Regions from separate parts of the Homo sapiens genome. Here regions 1, 2, 3, 4, 6 and 7 are each linked to region 5. The links come from fine-mapping of genetic effects on plasma protein levels. A gene starts in region 5. Each other region holds a variant in brackets. All regions are shown on one strand. Distances are from middle to middle.

Region 1 (4,073 bases), 340 kb after region 5:
AGGAGAGTACCAAAAGACATCGCAACTGAGTCTCTTTTACAACATTATACATAGAAGCCAGGAAACACTCACAATCTTTTATTTTTTTTTTTCAAAAGTTTGGGCTCCTGCACATCATGTTCTTAAACAGACTAGGTTGTAAAACTCATGAGTTTCCATTGACCTTTGCCCGGCCTTCTTAACTTTGAAGAGCATTGTATCTTGTGTTTGAAAAGAAGCATAAGTGGGTTTCCAGTAGAGATATTCCAGATTCTAATTACCTTCTAAGTCCACCACATACAAGAAGGTGGACAATATTTAGCATTGAGAAGCCCTTTAATTTATGAATCACTTGCAAAGAGTGCATCACAAATCACAAAATATTCATTGGTTGTAACAAGTAATTTTCATTCTACTCAACATTGAAGATACTTTTGATTATCTTAGAGGGCAAAAATAAATGACTCTATTTTATTGACATATTAAAAATTAATAATACTAAGCATAGCTGAAGTTACCAAGTGTGTACTATGTACCAGGGTTTACATTTACCTCATTTAATCCTCTCAGTAATTCTATAGGATTGGAACGGATATTATCACCCTCATTTCAAAGATAAGAATCCTGGATGCAGAGAAGCTAAGTAATTTATCCAAGCCTACTCAGCTAATAAGTGACAAGAAACGGTACAAAGGAGGCTTTTTCACATCAGAGTCTGTGTTCTGTACTCTACACATTAAGACATAAATACTTCAGAGGGAAAGAAGCCAGTTTGTGCTTTGTTGGTGGTGGTGGTGATTTGTTTATAGCACAGAATCATAAAAAGGAAACATATATAACATTATAAATTCTAAGCACAACTGGAGAGAACATTATCTATAAAATATTTTCCTTATCTACCAATGTTCAATGCCACAATCAAAACACGTAAAATACCTGTTAATTTTACTAAACTTTCTAGGAATATGAACAGATGAATGCTTTTCCTAGCATAATAGATCACATATTGTTAGTAAATAAATCAGGACCGGCATTTCTTATACAATATACACTAAATGCAACAGACTTTTTTTTTTATTTTTTGATTTTTAAGTTGTTTTATGTTTTTTATGTTTCTTGGTTGCCCAATACCTTTTGAATGCCCTGACTATGCTTGGGGAATTTTCCTCCATGAAGTAGAGCCCAGAGAATTCACTTCTATGGCACACTGTCACTGTTAAAAATATAAGTACATGACTTGGATTGTACAAATTAAACTCACCTATGAGACACTTTCATTTAGATGTGAGTGACTTGAGCAAGAAGGCATTTCGGGCTAAAATGGATGTTTGAGTTCTGGCTTTGGAGATGGAATCACTGCTGACAGCATGGCTGTTGTGAGAAAGCTGAGTTTCTGGCAAATGCCAACTTTGTTCTTGTAGCAGGTGTTCCCTGATCCAGCAGGATCTGTGACAGGGTTAACAGAATTGTCCCTAAAATATAGCCTTCCGGCTAGTTCTTAACACTCTCAAAACTTCTGTAAATTACCCAATAACCTTTTAAAAGCTTTTCTTCTTTATCAGCCAGAGTCAGCTTCTATTGCTTATGTTTAAGAACTGTAAGTTAGGGGCTCTGGTTCTGGGTAAAATAAAGTAAACACATCACATCCCATCCCATCTCTCTCACTTTACGTAACTATAAAACCTAGGCAGATTGAATGTACTGGACTATGAGGAGTCTGAAAAGGAAATAGCAATATGTGGATAAAGAAAAGATACCAGAATTCTAATCACCACTAAGCCTGTGGTGAGTTTACATTTTTTTCCTTTAATATCCTTGACCTGAACTCAAGGC[A/C]GCCAAAAACCCGGAAGTGAACATTGTGTTAAAGAGCGAGCTTTAAGAGAAGCCTGGCTCAGGGAACAGGGAAGGAAACTGCCAGATCTCAGAGAAAGTAGAGGAAATCAGCCAAGTGGTTATTTTTCTTTCATTTTTCCTGTATTCGCTCATGACTTATCCCCCAGGCAATTCACTGGTACCACAGCAGCAGCACCAGTAGTGGCCAGCAACAGGAATCAGTAGGGTATACAACTCCAGGGAGGGAAACCTTCCTTTCCACTTGGTAGAGCTGTGTCTTCAAAAGGGTGAGGACTAACCCATTTCTTTTTTCCTCTTCTCCCTGTCCTCCTACCACATGGCCTCAGACTTCGCACAGTAATAGAAGTGGACAATTTCTGGCCAAAGTACCAACAACTAGAGCCTGTGGAAACCAGAAAGTTCCAAGAAAACAGTAGAGAAGGAGGAATTAAAAAAAAAAAAAAAGAAATGTTTTATTAATTCCTGGAGTCACTGTCAACCTGAACATGCCTGGATCTATCATTAGTAGCATACAAAAGTTTCGCCAACTGAATAAATGGATCAATTTCCTTCCAGGTCCCACATGGAACAGTGAATGATGTACACATGAAACAAATTTGAATAACACTGCAACAACTTTGGCAATTAAACTGACTTTGGAAACAGCTTACAAAAGCTGGGTTGATACATGTAGTCTGAGCCAAACCAGTCAATTGCCTGCTGAACTAAAAAACATCAACTTTCTCCATGAGATTTAAACAAGACTCAGCCCCACAATATTCAAAATGCCCAGTATGTAATCCAAAATTACTTGGATTATGAAGAAAAAAATAATCTAAAATTACATGGTAAAATACAATCAATAGACACCAATAACAAGATAACACAGATGAAAAAGGCTTTAAAATACCTATTATAAGAATGTTCAAAAAAGCCATCACGAAGTCTTGAAACAAATATTAAGCTACAAAGTATCAGCAAATAAATAAAAGAGGCAAAGAAGAATCAAATGGAAGTTTTTGAAATGAAAAATTCAATAACCCAAATTAAAGGCTCACTGGATAGATTAAAAAGCAGAATGAAAACGACAGAGGAAAGAGCCAAAACACTTGAAGGTAGATCAATAGAAATTGTCTAATCTTAAAAGGTAGAAGAAAGATTTTTAAAAAATGAACAGAGCCTCAAGGAAATGTGGAGCAACAGCAAATATTTAACAATGATGTTGTTGAAGTCCCGGGAGAGAACAGACTCTAGAGGTTTAAAAATGTGAAAAAGTAACAGCTAAAAATGTTCTAAATTTGGTGGAAAACATATGACCACAGATTTAGGAAGTTAAATTACAAATAGAATCAATCCTAAGAAATTCACATTCAGATTCATCATAATGACAATACTGAAGACTATATACAAAGAAAAATTCTTGAAAATGGTCACACACTCAAAAAGACACATGACCCTATAGGAGCAGAAATATGTGAATGACTATGGAGTTCTTATTATAAGCCATGGAGGTCAGACAGGTGTCACAAAATATTTTTCTTCAGCCTGGAAAGAGAACTGTCATTCCAGAATTCTATCTCCAAAAAAAATATCCTTCCATAATGAAAGAGAAATAAAGATATTCTCAGATGAAGGAAAACTAAGATAATTCAATGCCAGCAGGCCTGCTATTTAATAAAGAATTGTTAAAAAAAAGTACTTCAGACAAAACAGAAATTATACCAGAAGAAAATACCATGAATAAACAAGTAACAACAAAATGGTAAACATCTGAGTTATGTTACATTTTTATTCCATTTGAGGTCTATTAAATATATTCGATGCTTGAAAGCAAAGAACATAACATTGTTAGGATTGTCAATATATGTAGATGTAATGAATAAGATACCTACATCATAAAGGGGGAATGTAAAGGAATTTATATAGTTATGTTTCCATATTCCTACTGAAGTGGTAAAATACAAATTCTTAATAGACTGTTAATAGTTTAGTATGGATTTATAATCCTTGGGCAACCACTATAAAACATTGTAAAAAGATACATTATGAAAATTACAAATGGAAGGCAGAAAAGGGGAAACATATAAAAAAAGTAGGAACCAACAGAAAGTAAATAATAAAATCACTTGCTAATAAACAAATAATTGCATTGTATATAATTGCAACATCAATAATTGCATTATATGTAAATAATCTAAACAAACAAATTGCAACAGAGATTATGAGTGAATACAAAGCATGACCCAACCAAACTCACTTCA
Region 2 (4,073 bases), 27 kb after region 5:
GAGAATTGTTGGCAGCAGATGCTGGGTGCTTATGAGCGACAGCAAGATGGTGTCAGGTAAGATGGCCATTTTGAGCTGCTGAAGTCCTACTCTCTTTATGGCCACAGAGTCCTCTTGAGAGGACCGATAGTGGAAGAGTATGCTTGTTTATGTCCTTATTTGGTTGGATGCAGTATTGTTTATTTAGCAAAATATTTTGTCCCTGTTGGAAAAGTACCGTATGAAATCTAAGATGGAGTCTTTTTTGGAGTTACTTATGTCAAGGATGCTCTATACAAGTAGGATTTGGACATCCCTAGCACACATGTATGCTATGACCATAGAAATGTATTCATTCTCCTCTTTCTAACCTCACACCTTTAATTATTGGGGGAGTAATGTTAGTCGTTTATTTATTAATTCAAAAAAAATTTATCAAGCACCTACTACTACTCTAGGCAATGGCGAATAAGGAAAACAAATGCCTATGGATCTTATAGTCCAGAGAGAAGACAGATATTAAATTAAAAATGTATGTGTTGTTTTAAGGCAAACAACACTAGGCAAACAGTAGATACTGAGAGAGGAGATATTAAGCAAACTGACCAGCCAGTGCTTAGGAAAACATGTATGTGGCATTTTAGAAAAGCAGTGAGGGTAGAGTGTGCAAAGGGGAGAGAAATAGGAGCGAGATAAGAGAGTTAATTGAGTGGGTGTGAACAGGCCTATATCATATGAGGGCTTGAAGGACACTGCCTAGGGCTTCGGACATGTAGGTGGCTTAGTGTGTGATTTGTCATATTTGTCCCCTTGTTTCAACTACTGGCAAAAAAACACAAAAAGTAATGATATCAACTTCCTGAAGGTTCTTAGTAAAATTCTCTCTTTTAGCTTTTTAACTATGTCTACTCTTATTTTCAGTCACTCTAACTGGCAAAGTAGTTCCAGATCTTGTAAACATTTGTTAAAAAGAACTGCTTCCCTATAGCACACATTCTATGAAATAAGTGGTAAAGAGCTAAGCAGAGTCCTAGAGCATTGACATATTTCGTCAACTTATAGGATATCAAGGTTCTTAAAATTGTATTCAAGAATTTTTCATGCAAATGTGTCAGTTATTTTAAGGCTTATTATTTATTTTTCTTGAGTGAATAAGGCATTGACAAAATACTTTTTATAATGCAATTTAGGTTTTTCAAACTCATTTATCATCTCAAAAATCCTTATTAGAGAAATACTACATTTCATTGATTCTAAGATGCAATTTCTTTTTACACATTTTAACATCTCTGACATATTTTAAATAAATTTTTAAGGTCAATAACAAAGACATTTGTCATAATTTAAGTTCCAGCAGGTGTTTTTTGTTGTTATTGTTGTTGTACATAAAATAATGGTATCTTCTGAAATCAATGAAATATGAAATCAATGAAATATCAAACACATGTGATTACACTACTTTTCTCACCTCAAATGAACTAAAACTATTACTATTCTGCCTTTCTAACTATCATATTCCTACATCAACAATGAAACCTAATAATATTTTAACCAGCCAGGGCCAGGGGCACCATGGTTTCAATAGCAAAATCACTATAAAAATATCAGATTTATTCACAGATGGGTACCCAGCTTTGCCTGATTCCAGTGCCAGGGCTTTCGATATGCTATCTAATTATCTGGAAGCCATTAGCATTCAACCTTCAAAGCATGGTATTTCTGAGCATCCACATCAAAGAAAATATTTTAATAGCAAGTGGTGGCTCTGCTGCTATAGTCCTTGAGAATTCCTGTGATAGACTCTGAAGCACACACTCTTACACTAACCTCCCCTTGGTATCAACACCTTCTCAGATGGACTGGCACAGAGTTGATGATTTTCCTCAACAAGGACCCCCAGCTTTAACCACCTTTTCAAAATGTTTGGTGTGGGGTCTGGAGTGGGATAAGCACTCAAAAAACGTCATCTCCCTTCCTCTCACTTTTGAATATTGTACACTTAATTGTTATATTTTAGTATACATATATGTATTTCTTCTCATGTAATTTATTTCTTAGATTAGTTCAAGTGTAAGGACTGTGTGTCTTCAATTTCCTTTCACTATGTGCAAATAGTCCCTTAATCAGTACTTTATAGAGGTGATGGAAATGTTATATAATATTAGTAGTCAATGTGAAAAGACAAATCCTATCATTTTCCTGAGCACATTTTGCCTTAGGGAGATTTCCAGCTTTTATATTAAATTATTGTTAATGTAATTCAGATGAAAAACAAATCTCCAAATGGAAAACCACTTCTTCAAT[G/A]AGAATATTAAGCCCTTTATGATACTTATCTTTTTTGCAGAAGAGCCTGTACATAGGCAAAACAGGGCACTTCAGTTTTAAAATACAATTTCTGTCCCTGTTCCAAATTTTTCAATTCACGATGGGCTTTGAAATTCCTTTATTTTTTAACTGCCAAAGAGAACAATTTAAGGGCCATTTCTCAATTACCTTTCTCTAGTACCGACACCCTCAGGGAGGTGAGATTATGTCTTGCCAATTTCACAAAAGTCTGGGTATTTACAGAAAATTATAATACATTATATTTTTATATATTAACTTAAAAAAGTAATGACAAGGTATTTGCTTAGGAAATATTCTAAATACTTTTAAATATGTATGCATTATTTAATTGATTTAAAACAGATGACATCATATTATATACTTCTCTATATATTGTTTTTGTTTTTTTTCCCTAAATGTGGATTAAAGATCTTTCCATAATTGCATATAAGAAAATTCACACATCAGGGTCTGTTAGGGAGTCGGGGGCGAGGGGAGGGAACTTAGAGGACAGGTCAATAGGTGCAGCAAACAACCATGGCTCATGCGTACCTATGTAATAAACCTGCACGTTCTGCACATCTATCTCATTTTTCTTAGAATAAATTAAAAAAAAGAAAATTCTCAAATGTTTGAATGGCTATAGAGTATGCCATTGCATGGATGTAGCTTAATTAATTTGCTTAGTCTTTTTTGGACATTTAGACATATTCCAAGTATCTTATTTTATTTGTAGCTATTGTAAATGGGACTACTTTGAAGATTTGTTTTTCAGATTGCTTGCTGTTAGCATATAGAAATGCTACTGATTTTTGTATGTTAATTTTATATCTTGCAACTTTACTGAATTTGTTGATCAGTTCTAAGAGTTCCTTGGTGGAGTCTTTGGGTCTTTTCAAATATAAAATTATATAATCTGCAAACAAATTTTTCTACCTTTCTAATTTGGATGCCCCCCTTTTCTTTTCCTTCTCTTGTCTAATTGCTGGGCTAGGACTTCCAGCACTATGTTGAATAATAGTGATGAAAGTAGGCATCCTTGTCTCATTACAGATCATAGAGGAAAAGCTTTCAGTTTTTCCCCATTTTATATGATACTAGCTATTGGTCTGCTCTGTCATATATGGCATTTATTCTGTTGAGGTATATTCCTTCTATATCCTGGTTTTGAGGCTTTTATCATGAAGGAACGTAGAGAACTTTAGCAAATGCTTTTTCAGCATCAATTGAAAAGATCATGTTTTATGTCCTTCATTTTGTTGATATGATGTATCAAACTGATTGATTTTCATATATTGAACCATCCTTGTATCACTAGGATAAATCCCACGTGGTCATGATGAAAAATCTTAATGTGTTGTTGCATTTGGTTTGCTAGGATTTTGTTGAGGATTTTTGCATTAATGTTCTTCAGGAAAATTGTCCTGTAGTTTACTTTCCTTGGTATGTCTTGTCTGGTTTTGGTATTAGGGTGATACTGGCCTCAAAGAATGAGTTTGGAAGTATTCCCTCCTCTATTGTTGGAAATATTTTTAGTAGAATTGGTATTAGTTCCTCTCTAAGTGTTTGGTAAAATTCAGCATCATGTCCCAGGTTTTCCCTTGCTGGGAGACTTTCTATTATAGCTTCGATCTCATTACTTGTTATTGGTCTGTTCAGGATTTGGACTTCTTTATAGTTCAATCTTGGTAGGTTGTGTCTACAAATTTATTCACTTATCCATTTTAGATTTTCTGATGTATTGGCATATATTTGCTCATAGTAGGCTT
Region 3 (4,073 bases), 360 kb after region 5:
AATGAAGAAAAAAATGTTAAGGGCAGCCAGAGAGAAAGGTCGGGTTACCCTCAAAGGGAAGCCCATCAGACTAACAGCGGATCTCTCAGCAGAAACTCTACAAGCCAGAAGAGAGTGGGGGCCAATATTCAACATTCTTAAAGAAAAGAATTTTCAACCCAGAAATTCATATCCAGCCAAACTAAGCTTCATAAGTGAAGGAGAAATAAAATACTTTACAGACAAGCAAATGCTGAGAGATTTTGTCACCACCAGGCCTGCCCTAAAAGAGCTCCTGAAGGAAGCGCTAAACATGGAAAGGAACAACCGGTACCAGCAGCTGCAAAATCATGCCAAATTGTAAAGACCATCGAGACTAGGAAGCAACTGCATCAACTAACGAGCAAAATAACCAGCTAACATCATAATGACAGGATCAAATTCACACATAACAATATTAACTTTAAAAGTAAATGGGCTAAATGCTCCAATTAAAAGACACAGACTGGCAAATTGGATAAACAGTCAAGACCCATCAGTGTGCTCTATTCAGGAAACCCATCTCACGTGCAGAAACACACATAGGCTCAAAATAAAAGGATGGAGGAAGATCTACCGAGCAAATGGAAAACAAAAAAAGGCAGGGGTTGCAATCCTAGTCTCTGATTAAACAGACTTTAAACCAACAAAGATCAAAAGAGACAAAGAAGGCCATTACATAATGGTAAAGGGATCAATTCAACAAGAAGAGCTAACTATCCTAAATATAGATGCACCCAATACAGGAGCACCCAGATTCATAAAGCAAGTCCTGAGTGACCTACAAAGAGACTTAGACTCCCACACATTAATAATGGGAGACTTTAACACCCCACTGTCAACATTAGACAGATCAATGAGACAGAAAGTCAACAAGGATACCCAGGAATTGAACTCAGCTCTGCACCAAGTGGACCTAATAGACATCTACAGAACTCTCCACCCCAAATCAACAGAATATACATTTTTTTCAGCACCACACCACACCTATTCCAAAATTGACCACATACTTGGAAGTAAAGCTCTCCTCAGCAAATGTAAAAGAACAGGAATTGTAACAAACTATCTCTCAGACCACAGTGCAATCAAACTAGAACTCAGGATTAAGAAACTCACTCAAAACCGCTCAGCTATATGGAAACTGAACAACCTGCTCCTGAATGACTACTGGGTACATAACGAAATGAAGGCAGAAATAAAGATGTTCTTTGAAACCAATGAGAACAAAGACGCAACATACCAGAATCTAAGGGATGCATTCAAAGCAGTGTGTAGATAGAAATTTATAGCACTAAATGCCCACAAGAGAAAGCAGGAAAGATCCAAAATTGACACCCTAACATCACAATTAAAAGAACTAGAAAAGCGAGAGCAAACACATTCAAAAGCTAGCAGAAGACAAGAAATAATGAAAAACAGAGCAGAACTGAAGGAAATAGAGACACAAAAAACCCTTCAAAAAATTAATGAATCCAGGAGCTGGTTTTCTGAAAAGATCAACAAAATTGATAGACCGCTAGCAAGACTAATAAAGAAAAAAAGAGAGAAGAATCAAATAGATGCAATAAAAAATGATATAGGGGATATCACCACCGTTCCCACAGAAATACAAACTACTATCAGAGAATACTACAAACACCTCTACGCAAATAAACTAGAAAATCTAGAAGAAATGGGTAAATTCCTCGACACATACACTCTCCCAAGACTAAACCAGGAAGATGTTGAATCTCTGAATAGACCAATAACAGGAGCTGAAATTGTGGCAATAATCAATAGCTTACCAACCAAAAGGAGTCCAGGACCAGATGGATTCACAGCCGAATTCTACCAGAGGTAGAAGGTGGAGCGGGTACCATTCCTTCTGAAACTATTCCAATCAATAGAAAAGGAGGGAATCCTCCCTAACTCATTTTATGAGGCCAGCATCATCCTGATACCAAAGCCAGGCAGAGACACAACCAAAAAAGAGAATTTTAGACTAATATCCTTGATGAACATTGATGCAAAAATCCTCAATAAAATACTGGCAAACCGAATCCAGCAGCACATCAAAAAGCTTATCCACCATGATCAAGTGGGCTTCATCCCTGGGATGCAAGGCTGGTTCAATATACGCAAATCAATAAATGTAATCCAGCATATAAACAGAACCAAAGACAAAAACCACATGATTATCTCAGTAGATGCAGAAAAGGCCTTTGACAAAATTCAACAAC[C/A]CTTCATGCTAAAAACTATAAATAAATTAGGTATTGATGGGACGTATTTCAAAATAATAAGAGCTATCTATGACAAACCCACAACCAACATCATACTGAATGGGCAAAAACTGGAAGCATTCCCTTTGAAAACTGGCACAAGACAGGGATGCCCTCTCTCACCACTCCTATTCAACATAGTGTTGGAAGTTCTGGCCAGGGCAATTAGGCAGGAGAAGGAAATAAAGGGTATTCAATTAGGAAAACAGGAAGTCAAATTGTCCCTGTTTGTAGACGACATGATTGTATATCTAGAAAACCCCATTGTCTCAGCCCAAAATCTCCTTAAGCTGATAAGCAACTTCAGCAAAGTCTCAGGATACAAAATCAGTGTACAAAAATCACAAGCATTCTTATACACCAACAACAGACAAACAGAGAGCCAAATCATGAGTGAACTCCCATTCACAATTGCTTCAAAGAGAATAAAATACCTAGGAATCCCACTTACAAGGGACGTGAAGGACCTCTTCAAGGAGAACTACAAACCACTTCTGAAGGAAATAAAAGAGGATACAAACAAATGGAAGAACATTCCATGCTCATGGGTAGGAAGAATCAATATCGTGAAAATGGCCATACTGTCCAAGGTAATTTACAGATTCAATGCCATCCCCATTAAGCTACCAATGACTTCCTTCACAGAATTGGAAAAAACTACTTTAAAGTTCATATGGAACCAAAAAAGGGCCCACATCCCCAAGTCAATCCTAAGCCAAAAGAACAAAGCTGGAGGAATCACACTACCTGACTTCAAACTATACTACAAGGCAATAGTAACCAAAACAGCATGGTACTGGTACCAAAACAGAGATATAGATCAATGGAACAGAACAGAGCCCTCAGAAATCACGCCGCTTATCTACAACTATCTGATCTTTGACAAACCTGACAAAAACAAGCAATGGGGAAAGGATTCCCTATTTAATAAATGGTGCTGGGAAAACTGGCTAGCCATATGTAGAAAGCTGAAACTGGATCCCTTCCTTACACCTTATACAAAAATCAATTCAAGATGGATTAAAGACTTACATGTTAGACCTGAAACCATAAAAACCCTAGAAGAAAACCTAGGCATTACCATTCAAGACATAGGCATGGGCAAGGACTTCATGTCTAAAACACCAAAAGCAATGGCAACAAAAGCCAAAATTGACAAATGGGATCTAATTAAACTAAAGAGCTTCTGCACAGCAAAAGAAACTACCATCAGAGTGAACAGGCAACCTACAAAATTGGAGAAAATTTTTGCAACCTACTCATCTGACAAAGGGCTAATATCCAGAATCTACAATGAACTCAAACAAATTTACAAGAAAAAAACAAACAACCCCATCAAAAATGGGCGAAGGATATGAAAAGACACTTCTCAAAAGAAGACATTTATGCGCCAAAAAACACATGAAAAATTGCTCACCATAACTGACCATCAGAGAAATGCAAATCAAAACCACAATGAGATACCATCTCACACCAGTTAGAATGGCAATCACTAAAAAGTCAGGAAACAACAGGTGCTGGAGAGGATGTGGAGAAATAGGAACACTTTTACACTGTTGGTGGGATTGTAAACTAGTTCAACCATTGTGGAAGTCAGTGTGGCGATTCCTCAGGGATCTAGAACTAGAAATACCATTTGACCCAGCCATGCCAGTACAGGGTATATACCCAAAGGACTATAAATCATGCTGCTATAAAGACACATGCACACGTATGTTTATTGTGGCATTACTCACAATAGCAAAGACTTGGAACCAACCTAAATGTCCAACAATGATAGACTGGATTAAGAAAATG
Region 4 (4,073 bases), 180 kb after region 5:
AAGAAAATGGCATAACCTCCTTCAGCAATTCATCCTTGGAAAAGTTGCCACGTAAAATATTTAAACATATGTGGGGCTAGACATTTGCTTAAAATTTTGTAATCTCCACAATAAATCCATTTCACCAATGGAAAACCTGAGCCTCAAGTAAATTAAATAGGTTGCAGAATACAAATAGAGTAAACTGCTGAACTAGGCTTTAAAACCAAACTGTCTGTCCAACTTGAAGGCTGGGTCTTTCTACTACATCAGTTGAGCTGTTTACAATGAGAAAGCTTCCTGTGTCAAGCTCAGATTCCCACACTAACTACAAGCTCAGACCCGGGAAGCCAGACATAGAGACTGGTTCAGACTGACTTTTAAATTATCTTTACCTTGATCTTATTTTCTGCCATACCTTTTGAAACTTTCTATACCTTTTTGCTCTATTTGTCTTTCCACTCTAATTGATAAACTACTTCATTTGATCCTTTGTGTTTTTTCCTCTTAAAATGATGAATCCTTGGAGTAATTTTTAATTAAAAGGCCTCAGCCCCACCCAGAGCCACGTGGAAAAAGTGTTAAGAGTCCCATACTGGTAGAGTAGCCTTCCCTTATCTAAGGTTTTACTTTCTGCAGTCTTAGTTACATGCAGTCAACCATGGTCTGAAAATATGAAATGGAAAATTCCAGAATAAACAATTCATAAGCTTAAAATTGTGGGCCACTCTGAATAACATGATGAAATCTCATACCATGCTGTTTGAGATGTGACTCTTCCCTTTGACCAGCATATCCATGCTGTAGATGCACCCATCCCATTAGTCACTTAATGGTTCTCTCAGTTATGAGATCAACTGTATCTCAGTGCTTGTGTTTAAGTAACACTTATTTTACTTAATGATGGACCCAAAGCCCAAAAATAGTGAGGTTGGCAACTTGGATACACCAAAAAGAATCTGCAAAGTGCTTCCTTTAAGTAAAATGGGGAAAGTTTTCAACTTAAAAAGAAAAAAAAAATATTGTATGATGAAGTTGCTAACATCTATGGTAAGAATATAAAACTCCTATCAATAGAATTGTGAAGGAAAAAATAAATTCATGCTGGCTTTGCTGTCGTACCTCAAACTACAAAAATCACAGCCACAGCATGTGATAAGCTCTTAGTTAAGATGGGAAAGACATTAAATTTGTGTGTGGAAGACATGAACAGAAAACATGTTCTGACTGAGGACCATGTGTTGTACCAGAAAGCATTGAACCTGTAAGACTTCAGCAAGGGATCTCCTGAAACTGGTGACCCCAAGCCATTACTGCAGGTAAAGGACATTTCACAGATTCAGGAATAGGTTTGGACTCAAACATACAAAAATTACTGAAGAGGCTATATCTGTGGGTTAAACTTTATTATACATATGTATGTAAAGGATAAAAAGAGTATACATAGGGTTTGTTATAATACTATCGACAGTTTCAGGCATCCACTGGGGTCTTGGAATACATCTCCTGCAGACAAGGGGGACTACTCTAAGTATCCTTTGGGACAATTCTAAATGGGACCTGCATGGCAGACTCCCTGTTTCCCCAGCCCTCAAACTAAACCCAACTCAATATCTGAATATGTTCCCAATGATCTGGGCTGGACACTTCAGGTAATACTTCATGTTCCATTTATGATGACTTATATTGTTTGTTTTTTAGAAGAGATTTGTAAAATAGTCTGTCTTTTTAAATAGCATGATTATGTACAAAATATTATTTTATTCAACAAATTAAACCAATGTAGTTTCAGAGACTTTTCTCAGAGTTCTGTATGTCCTGGCTTTTGACTCTGTCTCCAGCCAAGCTCTCAAATTTTTAATGATCCACTTAAATCTCTGAGACCTGAAACTTACATCACTGTGCAATTTGTTCTCTTATGTTCAATATGAAAGACATTTCATTTCATAGCTCCCACA[T/C]TATATTTTATTTTGTAAACTTCAACAGCATGTCTGCTTTTGAAAACAATTAAAAAAAGCATCAATGTTAAATTCAACTACTAGAAACCAAACTAATCTTGCCTTTTTCATATAGTGCTAAAACTTTAATTGCCACCTTTTTTTTTGGCCTACCCACTCAAAATATTTAGCTTCTAGGGTTTCTGTCCAGTTGATTGATGAGTGAAGAAGTGAGAATTTCAGAGCACTGGCCACATGAAATGACAGGTGAAAAAGGGATTCCAAAGATCAGTAAATGTGAGAAACTCAGTCCAACACAACAGCCATCTTCCAGCCCTAGTTTAAAGAAGTCCTATATTTGGAGGGCCTGGTTAACAAGGATAACCATGTTTAGTCCAGGTGTCCACAAATTTTTGAACCATGAATTCTCCCCTTACCTCTACCTCCACTACTACTGTTTTAATTTTAATGTAACCCTACTAAACATGTTGAGTAATGCTTTCAGAGAATCTGGTTAGATATTTCCAAGGTAAAGCTCTGAGATTGACTCATTTCAATCCCTAATTACATTTTTAAAATAAATTTTTGATTCAATTTTGAATTAATTGAAGAATGCCTAAGATTATGTTTTCTGCTGAATTATATTGAAAAAGTTAAATAAGATTAGAAATAAATTTATCGAATACTTATTATTTCCAAACTTTATTCAGAGTACTTCTTCCAGGTATTCTGTGTTCTAATTTCATATGAATAGTGTTTCTAAATAAAAGTAAATTTGTAAACACTTTTCAGGAATTCATAGTAAAGTTAATCTCATGATAAAAACTTCTAAATGTTCATTTTTCTATTTAATATGTTGCACAACTCTCTTTTCATACTTATTAAATTCACTTTGTTATATCCTTGTTTCACATTGACATATATAATAAAAGAAAAAGCATGTTAAAAATAATTTTAAATTATTGTAAGTGACTGTATGGACTATAAACATATACCATTCAACCACAATCCGTGCTGAATTAATTTCACACCTTAGGGACACCACTAACTTTCTTGAAATTACTTGTGTAAATTAAAATTCTACTTCTTGCCCAGGTATGGCAAGGTATAATCCAGCAAAAGAATATTTAATAATGAAAAAGTATTAATGCTAATTTCATGAGAAATGATTAAACATATTCTTACCTCAAAATGTCTAAATGAAGGCTATTTAGACACAACTGCACAAACCCAGCTTACAAATATTAACTGCTGCTGGGTATGTGTTGTTCTGGCACACAGCAGTGCCAGAATAATATATAAAGCTTAAAAAGTACAAACCCTTAAACAAACCATATGTATGAAAGAAAATAGCTTTCACAGATGTCTTATTTTTAGAGTTTTATGTCCCATATTTTGGTGGTACATAATGATGATTGAATTGTTCTTCCAGACCTAGGCCTCAGTTGAACAATAGAATTTGGAAAGGAACTTCTGTGGGCAGCTTCTTGCTGCCCACTTACAAGAATATGATGCTATAAATGCAAGTGTTCCATAGAGGTAGATCATCCAATGGAAAGGATTTGATGCTGTCATAAGAAATGCTAGCTACTAGTCACAGTGTACTTAAAAATGGAGCCCTAAATAAGGAGACTCATTATCTCACTCAACAAGACTGCTATTATCTTCAGGGTCAGGATCTGAGTCCATACTGAGATTCTACATTAGACAAGGAGAAGAGGAAAGACACACTCAATGCAACGTGACCTAGGTGGTTTGGCTAATTCAGCAAGTAGGTTGCAAGTTTTTGAATAAATGTGTGTAGTTATAAATTATCTCTCAAAGGGGGAAACAACAGTGTTTTAAAGGAGAATACTGTGCCCTGACTTCATGGCACGTGGGAAGATTGCCATTTCAAAGGATGAGAATTATATAGAGCTGAATCAGTTAAAAAAAATAATTAAACACAGGAAGAATTTCCTAACATTGAGGATCTTTCATCAAAGGAATTCTTCACGATTGTATGTAATGCAATCCCTTTTGGAAGCATTTAAGACCAAATTAAGTTTTCCCTGTTTTTGCATAAGAAGAAAGTCAATAGTGAGAAAAATAGTAGACGAAGAGATGGACAAAATGAACACCCTAGATTCATTACAGTTCTCGGAAAATCTGACTCCT
Region 5 (4,073 bases):
CCTTCGTGATGCACACCTTCTGCACCATCAGATTCTGTGCTTTGAAAAGGGCCAACTACACTGACAACCTGTATCTATGATACTGGACATGGGGTAAGTTCCTTTTGTAAAATTGATTGGCACTTGACACATCTAGAACTGATGTGACTTAATTCTGCAACTTTAATAGTAAAAGAATGACACTTTCTACCCTGCTTTCTAAGAGAGAAGGATGTTTGCCAAGGGCTTCACAGCCATCTTCCCACCAGAAGGAAATAGCCTTTCTGGGAATAGAACTGGTAGAGAAGAATGCAGGTAAGAGACAGGAGGAAACAAACAACTTAGACCCAGAGAAAACAGTTTAAAACACACCTGAAATTAATTCTTCCCACGGACTCTTCAACTATGGTAGTAACCAACTCTGTCCTAGTTTAAGTCCTTTTAAGTTGGCTTATATCTAAGCTTGTCTTGGTAGAAGTCATTAGGAAAGTTTAGTGACTCAATCCCTTGAAAAGAAGAAAAGATTGATTAATTTTATGATATTATAATCCTTCTATTATGTAATAATTAAGTCAGTGAATGTAATATAATCAATTTTTTTGTGATATAAGCCCCTCATATACATACCTTATATTACAGCAAGAATTAATACAATTGACACATTTTACAAAGGAGTGAATAACTTCCAATGCTAAGTCACTCATCTAGATCTATAGAGAAAAGCAGTGTTATAATTTTTGTTTGTTGGACTCTAGAGTCTGTGTTTTTTCATTATGCCTGCTGAAAACAAAATATAGTATAACTTCTCTACTGGTATAAAATAAACATGAACAATATGCAATCAAAAACTCAATGGTGTAACTGCACAAATACTTCTCTCCCATCCCTATCTCTTCTTAATTTCTTGCCAAAGCAGCATTTTATTTTTTAAGCATTCATTCTAGAAAGGCCTCCAGGTGATTTAGAAATAGAAGTCTCATGACACCCCAAGAAAGATGATGTGCTGTAGGTTTACATGAGGAAGGGCGTAGCCAAACCAAGGCATAAGATAAATAAGTCCCTTCATTGAAACTAGGAAAAAAAATAGTTGTCAAGTGATGCACACAAATGTAGATGATTATCTTTCCAGTGGAACATAGAATTTCTGCATCACTGAGAAGAGTATGTTTTTTACACTGTAGCTGTACTTGGAAGGTATCAGATACTGTAGCTGAAGTGGCATAATTTTTAAGCATACTGGGGTTTGTGGCACATGTAATACAACATTCTTTGTTTGGGAAGCAGCTTCCCAGTATGTTTGAGTTATATCAGGCTAATTCTAGTAGAACTTCGATTTTGCATACATTTTCCAGGGCTATTATGCGTTTTTAGCTTTTCTATATCCTCAAATGACATGAAATTGCCTTAATGAGGCTAATTAAACAAGTGGAGACTGAGTATGCTCAAGTGTCTTTGAAAATTTTGGGTCATATTTGGGAGGCTTTTACGTAGTGTTGTATTTTAGTTAAGGAAAATAAACCTTTTTCATGAACGTGCAGATTATGTATCATTTCTCTTAGTATTTGGCTCATGGGCTTTCTTAGAGGCATAATATCCTAATATTCAAGACCAGCACCCTCAGGAGAATAATCGAATTTGAATATAATTAGAACAGTTCACAACTTAGGAAACACTGGGGAGGAAATGATGATATAGGAAGCTGACTTGAATTGGTAATGCCTTTAGGAAGCAAACACAGAGGCTGAAGCCTTATTCTGGACAGTTACTCTTAAGAAAGTTGTCAGAAGAAACGCATCTGCCTTTTTTTCCAGGTGAACTGCCGTGAGTTGTCCAGCATGATAGTGTTTATTTTCTTGGGTAAGTGAATGGTGCTTCTGGTTTATCTGAATTATTCATAATACTAATTCTTTGTAAACTGAATACCATCACACTTAAGCTTAACAGGGGCTTATAATATGAAGTACCAAGTAAATTACAAATTTATGCTTTAACATGGTTTATTCTTCTTGCAAAAATGTACACTCACTTTTACTCACTTATTTCTAACTCTATAGATAATGCAGCATGTGAAAATTGTATTAATCTCTCAGCTTGTTTCTGTTTTATTGTATAGAATGACCCAATGACTTTGAGTTACTTATTAGGATTAATGGAATTCACACATGTGTTAGAACCTTTTAGAAATAAAAATAAAACCTTCCAGTATCTATTTACAAGTTATAAGATGAAAAATTTCAAACTGTTATCTATTTTATTTATTTTGCTTTGAAATTAAACAAAAATAAGATTAATTTAAAACATTCAATTTACCTACAGTGTTAATATTTGCTAACTAGAAGTAATTTAGTGAAGTAAAACCACTTAACACCATATCAGAATGCTTCATATTTTCATTAATTTTTATGACCTAGAACTCAAGTGTGGACTTACTTCTCTTGTATTGGATCCGATGAATGTATTATAAGATGTTGATGAAAAATAATTTATTTTTATTTAATGTAGAATCCATGAATCTATTTGCTAGATGTGTGACTGGAGAATATTTTATATCTTCTTTAGCATTTGGTAGAATCTATAAACTGAATTCAGAAAAGGAATAATTGTAACTGTAGCTAGATTGTAATTTTAAAAATATGGCATTTTATGTTTAAGCTAATATATACTTGAATAAAGGCATAATTATGGGCCAGAAAGCAAAGAAGTTTACTTTAAATTGTATCGAACATAAAAGGAGAGTCATATCAAGTCAAGGAAACAAGTTAAGAAGGAGAGAAATCCCTTATATTTTCAGTTTTTCTTTTGTTTAAGTAATATTTTTCCATTGTTCCATAATTTTGCTTTTTGTAATTATTCCTAAAATATTTTCTTATTTTTATAAAGATTGTTAATATTTCTTTAGTTCTTTTTTGTGATAAAGAGAAATATAGGAAACTTTAATTTTTATAGATCAGGCAGCAATATAATGAAGCTCACAAAATACATTACAGACTCATTATGACCTCAGTTGAAAAGGCAATGGCCTCTTATTTTCATCTTTTACTTCTAAATTAACTTGACACCAGGTTGCATGAAGGAGGGAAATAACTTCTTAACATTGTTAGAACTAAAATTATACTATTTGATATGTTGTACCAACATTTCCCATATTATATTTTTTAGAATGCTTGTTTGACATTATCTAAATAGGTCTTATAATGAGGAAAATGTCTGTTGGTAAAGAAATGTGGAAAACAATGAATTTTAAAATCTCAGAACATTTAGTAGGATAATAAGCCCCATACATCTTTAAAACACTGATATAATTTGCAGCATTATCCATCTTATTAATTTAAAAATAGAAGTTATTTTTCATTGAGTATTACAGGAAAATTCTTGAAAAATCCTAGGTTAAATACAAAACCACAAGTCATAGTTTGGAATGAATAAGACAGATTTTGGAGAGGTAATACATTCTTGATTCTTGTGGACCAAATCATTGAGGTGGTTTTCTTAGTTGAGTCAATATTTTGTTGAGTAGGAAGTGTGGAAAATCCTATAAAATAATCTATTAAGAAGCTTGTTCAACCAAAAACTGAAAATGTGAAAGGAAGTAAAACATTAAAAACTGAAAATGTGAAAGGAAGTAAAACATATTTGGGGAAGACAACATGTAGTATTTCTAAGTGATTATTACTCTGAAGTACTGATGAAGTTTTGATGATATATCTGGGATATTATCACTTATAAGATTCTTGAAGGGGCTTTTCACAAGATATAATGATTAATGGCAAATAAAATACCATTTTCTTATAAGTTGAGTTTATGACTTCAAATTTCTATTTCTGGGTCTTTGGAAAACTGGATTTGACCAAGTAAATTTGTGCTAGGATCAAAAGAGTCCTCTTTTTCTTTCTTTGGGCTAGCCAAATAAGGAGTACAAGGGCTTGGCTAGATGAGGTTGTCCATGAACACATGAGAAAACAGAAAGCTGATATGTCCATTTCCACTCCAGCCCTCAGCAAGAAAAATGTTACCAAGCTACACCCATGGGCCTAATCTCCAAATGCAGTGACCCAGCAAGTAGTACACATGGTCCAATCAGTTGTCTTGGATTC
Region 6 (4,073 bases), 18 kb after region 5:
GAATCCAGTAACTGGTTTTTTGAAAAGATCAACAAAATTGACAGACTGCTAACAAGACTAATAAAGAAGAAAAAAGAGAAGAATCAAATAGAAGCAATAAAAAATGATAAAGGGGATATCACCATTTAATACAGAAATACATCCCACAGAAATACAAGCTACCATCAGAGAATAAACACCTCTACACAAATAAACCAGAAAATCAACAAGAAATGGATAAATTCCTGGATGCATACACTCTACCAAGACTAAACCAGGAAAAAGTTGAATCCCTGCATAGACCAATAACAAGCTCTGAAATTAAGGCAGTAATTAATAGCCTACCAACCAAAAAAAAAGTCCAGGACCAGATGGATTCACAGTTGAATTCTAGCAGAAATACAAACAGGAGCTGGTACCATTCCTTCTGAAACTATTCCAATCAATAGAAAAAGAGGGAATGCTCCCTAACTCATTTTATGAGACCAGCATCAACCTGATAACAAAGCCTGGCAAAGACACAACAAAAAAAGAGAATTTTAGACCAATATCCCTGATGAACATTGATGCAAAAATCCTCAATAAAATACTGGCAAACCGAATCCAGCAGCACATCAAAAAGCTTATCCACCATGATCAAGTGGGCTTCATCCCTGGGATTCAAGGCTGGTTCAAAGCATACGCAAATCAATAAACATAACCCAGCATATAAACAGAACCAAAGACAAAAACCACATGATCATCTCAATAGATGCAGAAAAGGCCTTTGACAAGATTAAACAACGCTTCATGCTAAAAACTCTCAATAAATTAGGTATTGATGGGATGTATCTCAAAATAATAAGAGCTATTTATGACAAACCCACAGTCAATATCATACTGGATGGGCAAAAACTGGAAGCATTCCCTTTGAAAACTGGCACAAGACAGGGATGCCCTCTCTCACCACTCCTATTCAACATAGTGTTGGAAGTTCTGGCCAGCGCAATCAGGCAGGAGAAAGAAATAAAGGGTATTCAATTAGGAAAAGAGAAAGTCAAATTGTCCCTGTTTGCAGATGACATGACTGTATATTTAGAAAATCCCATCATCTCAGCCCAAAATCTCCTTAAGCTGATAAGCAACTTCAGCAAAGTCTCAGGATACAAAATCAATGTGCAAAAATCACAAGCATTCCTATACACCAATAATAGACAAACAGAGAGCCAAATCATGAGTGAACTCCCATTCACAATTGTTTCAAAGAGAATAAAATACTTAGGAATCCAACTTACAAGGGATGTGAAGGACCTCTTCAAGGAGGACTACAAACCACTGCTGAACAGAATAAAAGAGGACACAAACAAATCGAAGAGCATTCCATGTTCATGGATAGGAAGAACCAATATCATGAAAATGGCCATACTGCCCAAGGTAATTTATAGATTCAATGCCATCCCCATCAAGCTACCAATGACTTCCTTCACAGAATTGGAAAAAACTACTTTAAAAAGTTCATATGGAACCAAAAAAGGGCCCGCATTGCCAAGACAATCCTAAGCCAAAAGAACAAAGCTGGAGGCATCTTGCTACCTGACTTCAAACTATACTACAAGGCAGTAGTAACCAAAACAGCATGGTACTGGTACCAAAACAGAGATATAGACTAATGGAACAGAACAGAGCCCTCAGAAATAATACCACACATCTACAACCATCTGATCTTTGACAAACCTGACAAAAACATGAAATCGGGAAAGGATTCCCTGTTGAATAACTGGTGCTGGGAAAACTGGCTAGCCATATGTGGAAAGCTGAAACTGGATTCCTTCCTTACACCTTATACAAAAATTAACTCAAGATGGATTAAAGACTTACATGTTAGACCTACAACCATAAAAACCCTAGAAGAAAACCTAGGCAATACCATTCAGGAGATAGGCACGGGCAAGGACTTCATGTCTAAAATACCAAAAACAATGGCAACAAAAGCCAAAATTGACAAATGGGATCTAATTAAACTAAAGAGCTTCTG[T/C]ACAGCAAAAGAAACTACCATCAGAGTGAACAGGCAACCTACAGAATGGGAGAAAATTTTTGCAATCTACCCATCTGACAAAGGGGTACTACCCAGAATCTACAAAGAACTCAAACAAATTTACAAGAAAAAAACAACCCCATCAAAAAGTGAGTGAAGGATATGAACAGACACTTCTCAAAAGAAGACATTTATGCAGCCAACTGACACATGAAAAAATGCTCACTATCACTGGCCATCAGAGAAATGCAAATCAAAACCACAATGAGATACCATCTCACACCAGTTAGAATGGCGATCATTAAAAAATCAGGAAACAACAGGTGCTGGAGAGGATGTGGAGAAATAGGAACACTTTTACACTGTTGGTGGGACTGTAAACTAGTTCAGCCATTGTGGAAGACAGTGTGGCGATTCCTCAGGGATCTAGAACTAGAAATACCATTTGACCCAACCATCCCATTACCAGGTATATACCCAAAGGATTACAAATCATGCTGCTATAAAGACACATGCACACGTATGTTTACTGCAACACTATTCACAATAGCAAAGACTTGGAACCAACCCAAATGTCCATCAATGATAGACTTGATTAAGGAAATGTGGCACATATACACCATGAAATACTATGCAGCCATAAAAAAGGATGAGTTCATGTCCTTTGTAGGGACATGGATGAAGCTGGAAACCATCATTCTCAGCAAACTATCCCAAAGACAAAAAAACCAAACACCGCATATTGTCACTCATAGGTGGGAATTGAACAATGAGAACACTTGGACACAGGGAGGGGAACATCACACACCGGGGCCTGTCGTGGGGTGGTAGGAGGGGGGAGGGATAGCATTAGGAGATATACCTAATGTAAATGATGAGTTAATGGATGCAGCACACCAACATGGCGCATGTATACATATGTAACCAACCTGCACGTTGTGCACATGTACCCTAGAACTTAAAGTATAAAAGTAAAAGAAAAAAAAAGTTGACCATATGTTGAGTCAAAGCAAATATCAACAAATTTCAAGACACTGAAATAATTAGAAACATGTAATTTTATCTTGGTGGAAATAACCTAGATATCAGTACAAAAAATAAACAAGAAATCCCCCCCCCCCAAAAAAAAGAAAAAACAAAGTAAGTGATGAAGAAAAATATCACCAAAAGAAATTGAACATTAACATTATGTGGTTCTATAACCTGTAATATTGGTGGTAATTAATTTTTTAATTTGTTGGGATGCTAGTTAAGTTGATAGTGTGACTTTTCTGTGAGAAAACAAAACAGTATAAATGAGCAGATAAACCACTCAGTAAAATTTTATAGGGTTGGAGTTTTATAGAGAATCACGGGAAAGTAAAAGAAGAAAGGACGAAAAGACAATAACAAGAAACTGTTCCTTTATCTGAATGGGTGAGTGATATAGGCTGGAAAGAGTCTATGAATCCAGGAGATGATGCTAAGATTGGGAGTGAATAAAAAGATGAAAGTTCTGGAGGTATATGTGCACATGAAATAATCAAGAATGTGAAGCTTTGGAAGCGAGTAAGATAAGTAATATTTGCAATTGAAAGAGAGAGAACTTCATGTCAATGTCAGGTCTAGAAGTCGATCATTGGTGTGGCATAGTTGGAGTGTCGGTGAAGGTCATAAGAGCTATGGTTAAGGAATTCTGAATTAAGGGTGGAAGATGGTTTTGTCCCAAAAGACATAGAGATAACTTAGCACAATGACAAGATCTGAGGTAGAGGAGAATATTGAGACAGTACCTGAGTCGATGCTGAATATCAGGGCAAGACTTTGAGGTTAATATTTGACAAAAGAAAAGAGGGAGGCACAACCCGACAGCATAAAATTCAAAGAAGGAGAAATGTTTTATAAGGATGAATAATTAATATTTTGGAAGCTACAAAGCTGGAAAAGTAGATATAAACACATTCTAATGATATCGTGGTATGATCTATATGGGAAATGGGTAGGATTCACTAGCAAGAGCTACAGGGAAGTGAGGCTAGAGAAAATCTAGGCTTCCCAGATATTACACTTTTCTATTTTTCTTCTTGCTTCCATGGGTGAT
Region 7 (4,073 bases), 290 kb after region 5:
CTAGGGAAACAAATGCACATATGCCCAAGAATATATGTACAAGTAGGTCCACAGCAGGATGGCTCATAATTGTTCAATGTGTGAACCAACCCAAATATCCATCATAGGTAGAATGGATAAATAAATTATGCTATGTTCATACAATGGAACATTACACAGCAATAAAAAAACATAGTTATAAGGAACGTGGATTTTTATAACTATAATATACACATGAAGCAAGTTCGAAATAATGCATGTAGTATGATTGCATTTATATAAAGACCAAAATTTAGTCAAGTGAAATCATGATTTTTAGGAATGCATGCATAGGTGATGAAACTATAATATAGTGTAAAACAAGGAAGTAATTATAATAAAAATCAGGATAATGGGAAGGGAGGATGTTATAATTGGTAAGAGACATACTGGAAACGTCTGGGGTCTGGTAATGTTCTATTGCTTGACCTGGGAGATATTATGTGGGCATTTGTATTATAATTAGCTGTTAATTGTACATTTATATTTTATTTACTCTTCTGTATGTATGTTGTAGTTCACCAAAAAAAGTAAAAAAAAAAAGTGACCTTTTGAACAAATGGTGGCCTATAGAGCAAATCATTAATAAAATTATTCTCTAGTGGACTTCTAGTAAGAAAGAAAAAAGAGAAAATAAATTTTGAGAATGTATTTGGATATGAATAATAAACATGTCAGAGAGAACAAATAGAGAAGAAATTATCAAAAAAATAATTCAATGTATTTTTAGAAGTTAGGAACATGAATTTCCATATTACAGCACAACAGTTTTAAAAAGGCCAACACAGGTACTATGATTTGTAAACTTAGAATTCTAGAAACAAAGACAATATCTTAAGAGCTTACAGAGAGAAGAGGAAAAGAAAAGAAAGAGTCTATATGCAAAGTATCTGCAGTAAGTATGTTATAAGATTGTTAAAAGTAACTTTTTAGTTACATTATTAGCAATTTTGTTAACTAAGAGATTTTACTGAAATTTAAAAGCTAAAAATCATTGAAAGTTAAAAAGAACCAAAAGCTAAACACCTTAAACATTCTAAAAGGAAATGATTCTCAACTAAAATTTTACACCTAGTGAACTTAGTTATCAAGTGTGAGAGGAGACTAATGACATTTTCAGGCATGTGAGATTTTAAAGTGTTTACTGTTCATGCAACTTTTCTTAGGAAGTTACTAAAGGAGGTGTTTGCTCCAAACACAAGAAAAAACAAAAGGAGGAAAAACACGGATTTCAGGAAACAATGGACCCATCCCTGGATGGTAGAAATTGTCAGCAGGCCTCCAGAGCAAGCAGGCAAAACTGGGGTGGGAAGAGGGAGAGGTCAAAGATAGGGATCAAAAAGAAGATGAAGTTGGTAGGCTATCAGATGGATGAATTTGGAACATGTGCAGGGGCATGAAAAAGAACTTTCATGTTTGGTCTGTGCACTCATGTGTTACGAAGTTGAATACATGTGAAATTGTAGTGAAAAAAAATTATATAAAAAAATCAGGCTGTAAAAGCATTAAATTCACATTCCTCATAAAATGGCATCTAAATACGATTTTGTTTTTACCATAAACTGTTTCTGCAGAGTTAATAAGACTACTGATTCTAATGCCTTTTCGCATATTTCAAATTCATAATGAAATAACAATAGTGGCACATGGGAGGGGGGTTCTGTTGACTACTTATATTTAAAATTAGTCAATTATATTTATTTGGTTCTTCAACAAACCAAGAAGTTAATAAATACTTATTTTCCAAAAAAAATTAATTGTTATGGGTATGTGGTAGGTGTATATATTTATGGGGTATGTGAGATATTTTGATACAGGCGTACTATGTATAATAATCACATCAGGGAAAATAGGGTACTTATCCCAAGCATTTATCACTTCTTTCTATTATAAACATTCCAATTATACTCTTTAAGTCATTTTTAAATGAACTATAAATTATTGTTATCTCCAGTCACTCTGTTGTGCTATCAAATAGT[A/G]GATCTTACTCATTCTATTTAACTATATTTAGGTACACATTAACCATGCCCACACCGCCCCCGCTCCACTACCCATCCCAGCCTCCATTCTACTCTCTATCTCCATGAGTTCAATTGCCTAAATTTTTAGTTCCCACAAATATTAAGAACATGTGAGGTTTGTCTTTCTGTGCCTGGCTTATATCGCTTAACATAATGACTTCCATTTCCATCCATGTTGTTGTAAACAACGGGATCTTATTCTTTTTTCTGAGAGTACTCCATTGTGTATAAGTACCTCCTTTTTTTATTATCCATTCATTTGTTGATGGACACTTAGGTTGCTTCCAAATCTTGAGCATTGTGAATAGTGCTGCAGTAAACATAGGAGTACAGATATTCCCATGTTTGATACACTGATATTTTTTTCTCTTTTGGCAATATACCTATCAGTGGAATTGCTGGATCATATGGTGGTTCTACTTTTAGTTTTTTGAGGAACCTCCATACTCTTCTCCACAGTGGCTGTACTAATTTACATTCCCACCAACAGTGTACCAGGGTTCCCTTTTCTCCATATATTTGCCAGCATTTATTATTTCCTGTCTTTTGGATAGAAGCCATTTTAACTGGGATGAGATTATATTTCTTTGTAGCTTTCATTTTCATTTCTCTGATAATCAATAATGTTGAGCACTTCTTCGTATATGTTTACCTTTTATATCTTCTTTTGAGAAATGCCTATTTGAGCCTTTTGTACATTTTTACTTGGATTATTATGATTTTCTTTGCTTATAGAAGCATTTTAACTTAAAATATCCCATTTGTCCATTTTTATTTTGATTTCCTGTGCTTTTGGGGTGTTACACACACACACACACACAGACACACAGACACACACACACACACACAATTTGCCCAGACTAATGTACTGGAAAGTTTCTCCAATGTTTTCTTTTAGTAGTTTTATGATTTCAGGTCTCAGATTTAAATTTTTAATCCATTTTGATTTGATTTTTGTTTTGTTTTGATTTGATTTTTATATGTATAAAGAAGTCTAGTTTTATTCTTCTCCATATGGTTGTCCAGCTTTCCCAGCACCATTTATTGATGAAGCTGTCCTTTCTCCAATGTTTGTTCTTGATACCTTTGCTGAAAATGAATTCACTATAGATGTGTAAGTTTATCTCTGTGTTCCATGTGCTTTTCCATTGGTCTATAGGTCTGTTTTTATGCCACTACCATGCTGTTTTGGTTACTAGAACTCTGCAGTATAATTTGAACTCAGGTAATGTGATTCTTCCAGTTTTATTCTTTTTGCTCAGGATGGCTTTTGCTATTCTGGGTCTTCTGTGGTTCCATATAAATTTAAGAATTTGTTTTCTATTTCTGTGAAAGAATGTCATTGGTCTTTTGATAGAGATTGCACTGAATCTGTAGATGGCCTTGGGTATTATGGACATTTTAACAACATTGATTATTCCAATACTTTAACATGAAAGTGTTTTCATTTTTGGTATTCTTTTCAGTTTCTTGCATGACTGTTTTATAGTAGGGGCTCCCCAAACCCTGGGCTATGGATGGGAGCCATGGCCTGTTAGAAACTGGGCAACACAACGGGTGGTGAGTGGTGGGTGAGTGAGCAAAGATTCATCTGTATTTATAGCTGCTCCCCATTGCTCACATTACCGCCTGAGCTCCAACTCCTGTCAGATCAGCAGCAGCATTAGATTCTCATAGTACCATGAACCCTACTGTGACCTGCCCATGTGAGCAATCTAGGTTGCGTGCTCCTTATGAGACTCTAATGCCTGATGATCTGTCATTGTCTCCCATCACCTCCAGATGGGACCATCTAGTTGCAGGAAAACAAGCTCAGTGCTCCGACTGTTTCTACATTATGGTGAGTTACATAATTATTTCATTACATATTACAGTATAATAATAACAGAAATAAAGTACACAATAAATGTACTGTTCTTTAATCATCCCAAAACCATTCCCCTCACACCAGTCCATCATCGTTATATTCCAGGTCTTAGAGGACAGGCTTTCATCTTTTACCCTTTCAAGATATACTAGCTGTCTGTCTGTTAT

Alleles and levels. Alleles are on the strand shown, and positions count from the first base shown. The strength of an association depends on the size of the effect and on how common the allele is.
For the plasma level of the protein whose gene starts at base 1,729 in region 5, A is the high allele of the variant in region 1 and C is the other (moderate association).
For the plasma level of the protein whose gene starts at base 1,729 in region 5, G is the high allele of the variant in region 2 and A is the other (moderate association).
With allele C in place of A in region 3, the plasma level of the protein whose gene starts at base 1,729 in region 5 is lower (moderate association).
For the plasma level of the protein whose gene starts at base 1,729 in region 5, allele T in region 4 goes with a higher level than allele C (weak association).
In carriers of allele T in region 6, the plasma level of the protein whose gene starts at base 1,729 in region 5 tends to be higher than with C alone (moderate association).
For the plasma level of the protein whose gene starts at base 1,729 in region 5, G is the high allele of the variant in region 7 and A is the other (strong association).

The links. PIP is the chance, under the fine-mapping model, that this variant and not a neighbour inherited with it causes the effect. Protein levels are from antibody-based Olink assays in UK Biobank. Linkage for the fine-mapping came from a reference panel and not from the study's own genotypes, which makes the PIPs less certain.
Region 1: its variant is fine-mapped to the plasma level of the GFRAL protein (UK Biobank, PIP above 0.99).
Region 2: its variant is fine-mapped to the plasma level of the GFRAL protein (UK Biobank, PIP above 0.99).
Region 3: its variant is fine-mapped to the plasma level of the GFRAL protein (UK Biobank, PIP above 0.99).
Region 4: its variant is fine-mapped to the plasma level of the GFRAL protein (UK Biobank, PIP above 0.99).
Region 6: its variant is fine-mapped to the plasma level of the GFRAL protein (UK Biobank, PIP above 0.99).
Region 7: its variant is fine-mapped to the plasma level of the GFRAL protein (UK Biobank, PIP above 0.99).

What each region holds. Positions count from the first base shown.
Region 1 is chr6:55,666,854-55,670,926 of GRCh38, forward strand. It overlaps a transcript of HMGCLL1 not described here. Among named protein-coding and RNA genes, the nearest start is that of HMGCLL1, 90 kb to the left of the region's middle. The variant A/C (reference allele first, on the strand shown) is at 1,813.
Region 2 is chr6:55,352,444-55,356,516 of GRCh38, forward strand. The region is part of intron 5 of GFRAL (GDNF family receptor alpha like); the gene reads left to right. Among named protein-coding and RNA genes, the nearest start is that of GFRAL, 27 kb to the left of the region's middle. The variant G/A (reference allele first, on the strand shown) is at 2,284.
Region 3 is chr6:55,686,238-55,690,310 of GRCh38, forward strand. No RefSeq gene overlaps it. Among named protein-coding and RNA genes, the nearest start is that of HMGCLL1, 110 kb to the left of the region's middle. The variant C/A (reference allele first, on the strand shown) is at 2,238.
Region 4 is chr6:55,505,853-55,509,925 of GRCh38, forward strand. The region is part of intron 5 of HMGCLL1 (3-hydroxy-3-methylglutaryl-CoA lyase like 1); the gene reads right to left. Among named protein-coding and RNA genes, the nearest start is that of HMGCLL1, 71 kb to the right of the region's middle. The variant T/C (reference allele first, on the strand shown) is at 1,938.
Region 5 is chr6:55,325,741-55,329,813 of GRCh38, forward strand. It overlaps GFRAL (GDNF family receptor alpha like), which reads left to right and starts at 1,729. Exons shown (of 9, transcript NM_207410.2): 1 at 1,729-1,836. The coding sequence starts at 1,815.
Region 6 is chr6:55,343,729-55,347,801 of GRCh38, forward strand. The region is part of intron 3 of GFRAL (GDNF family receptor alpha like); the gene reads left to right. Among named protein-coding and RNA genes, the nearest start is that of GFRAL, 18 kb to the left of the region's middle. The variant T/C (reference allele first, on the strand shown) is at 1,994.
Region 7 is chr6:55,617,786-55,621,858 of GRCh38, forward strand. It overlaps a transcript of HMGCLL1 not described here. Among named protein-coding and RNA genes, the nearest start is that of HMGCLL1, 41 kb to the left of the region's middle. The variant A/G (reference allele first, on the strand shown) is at 1,998.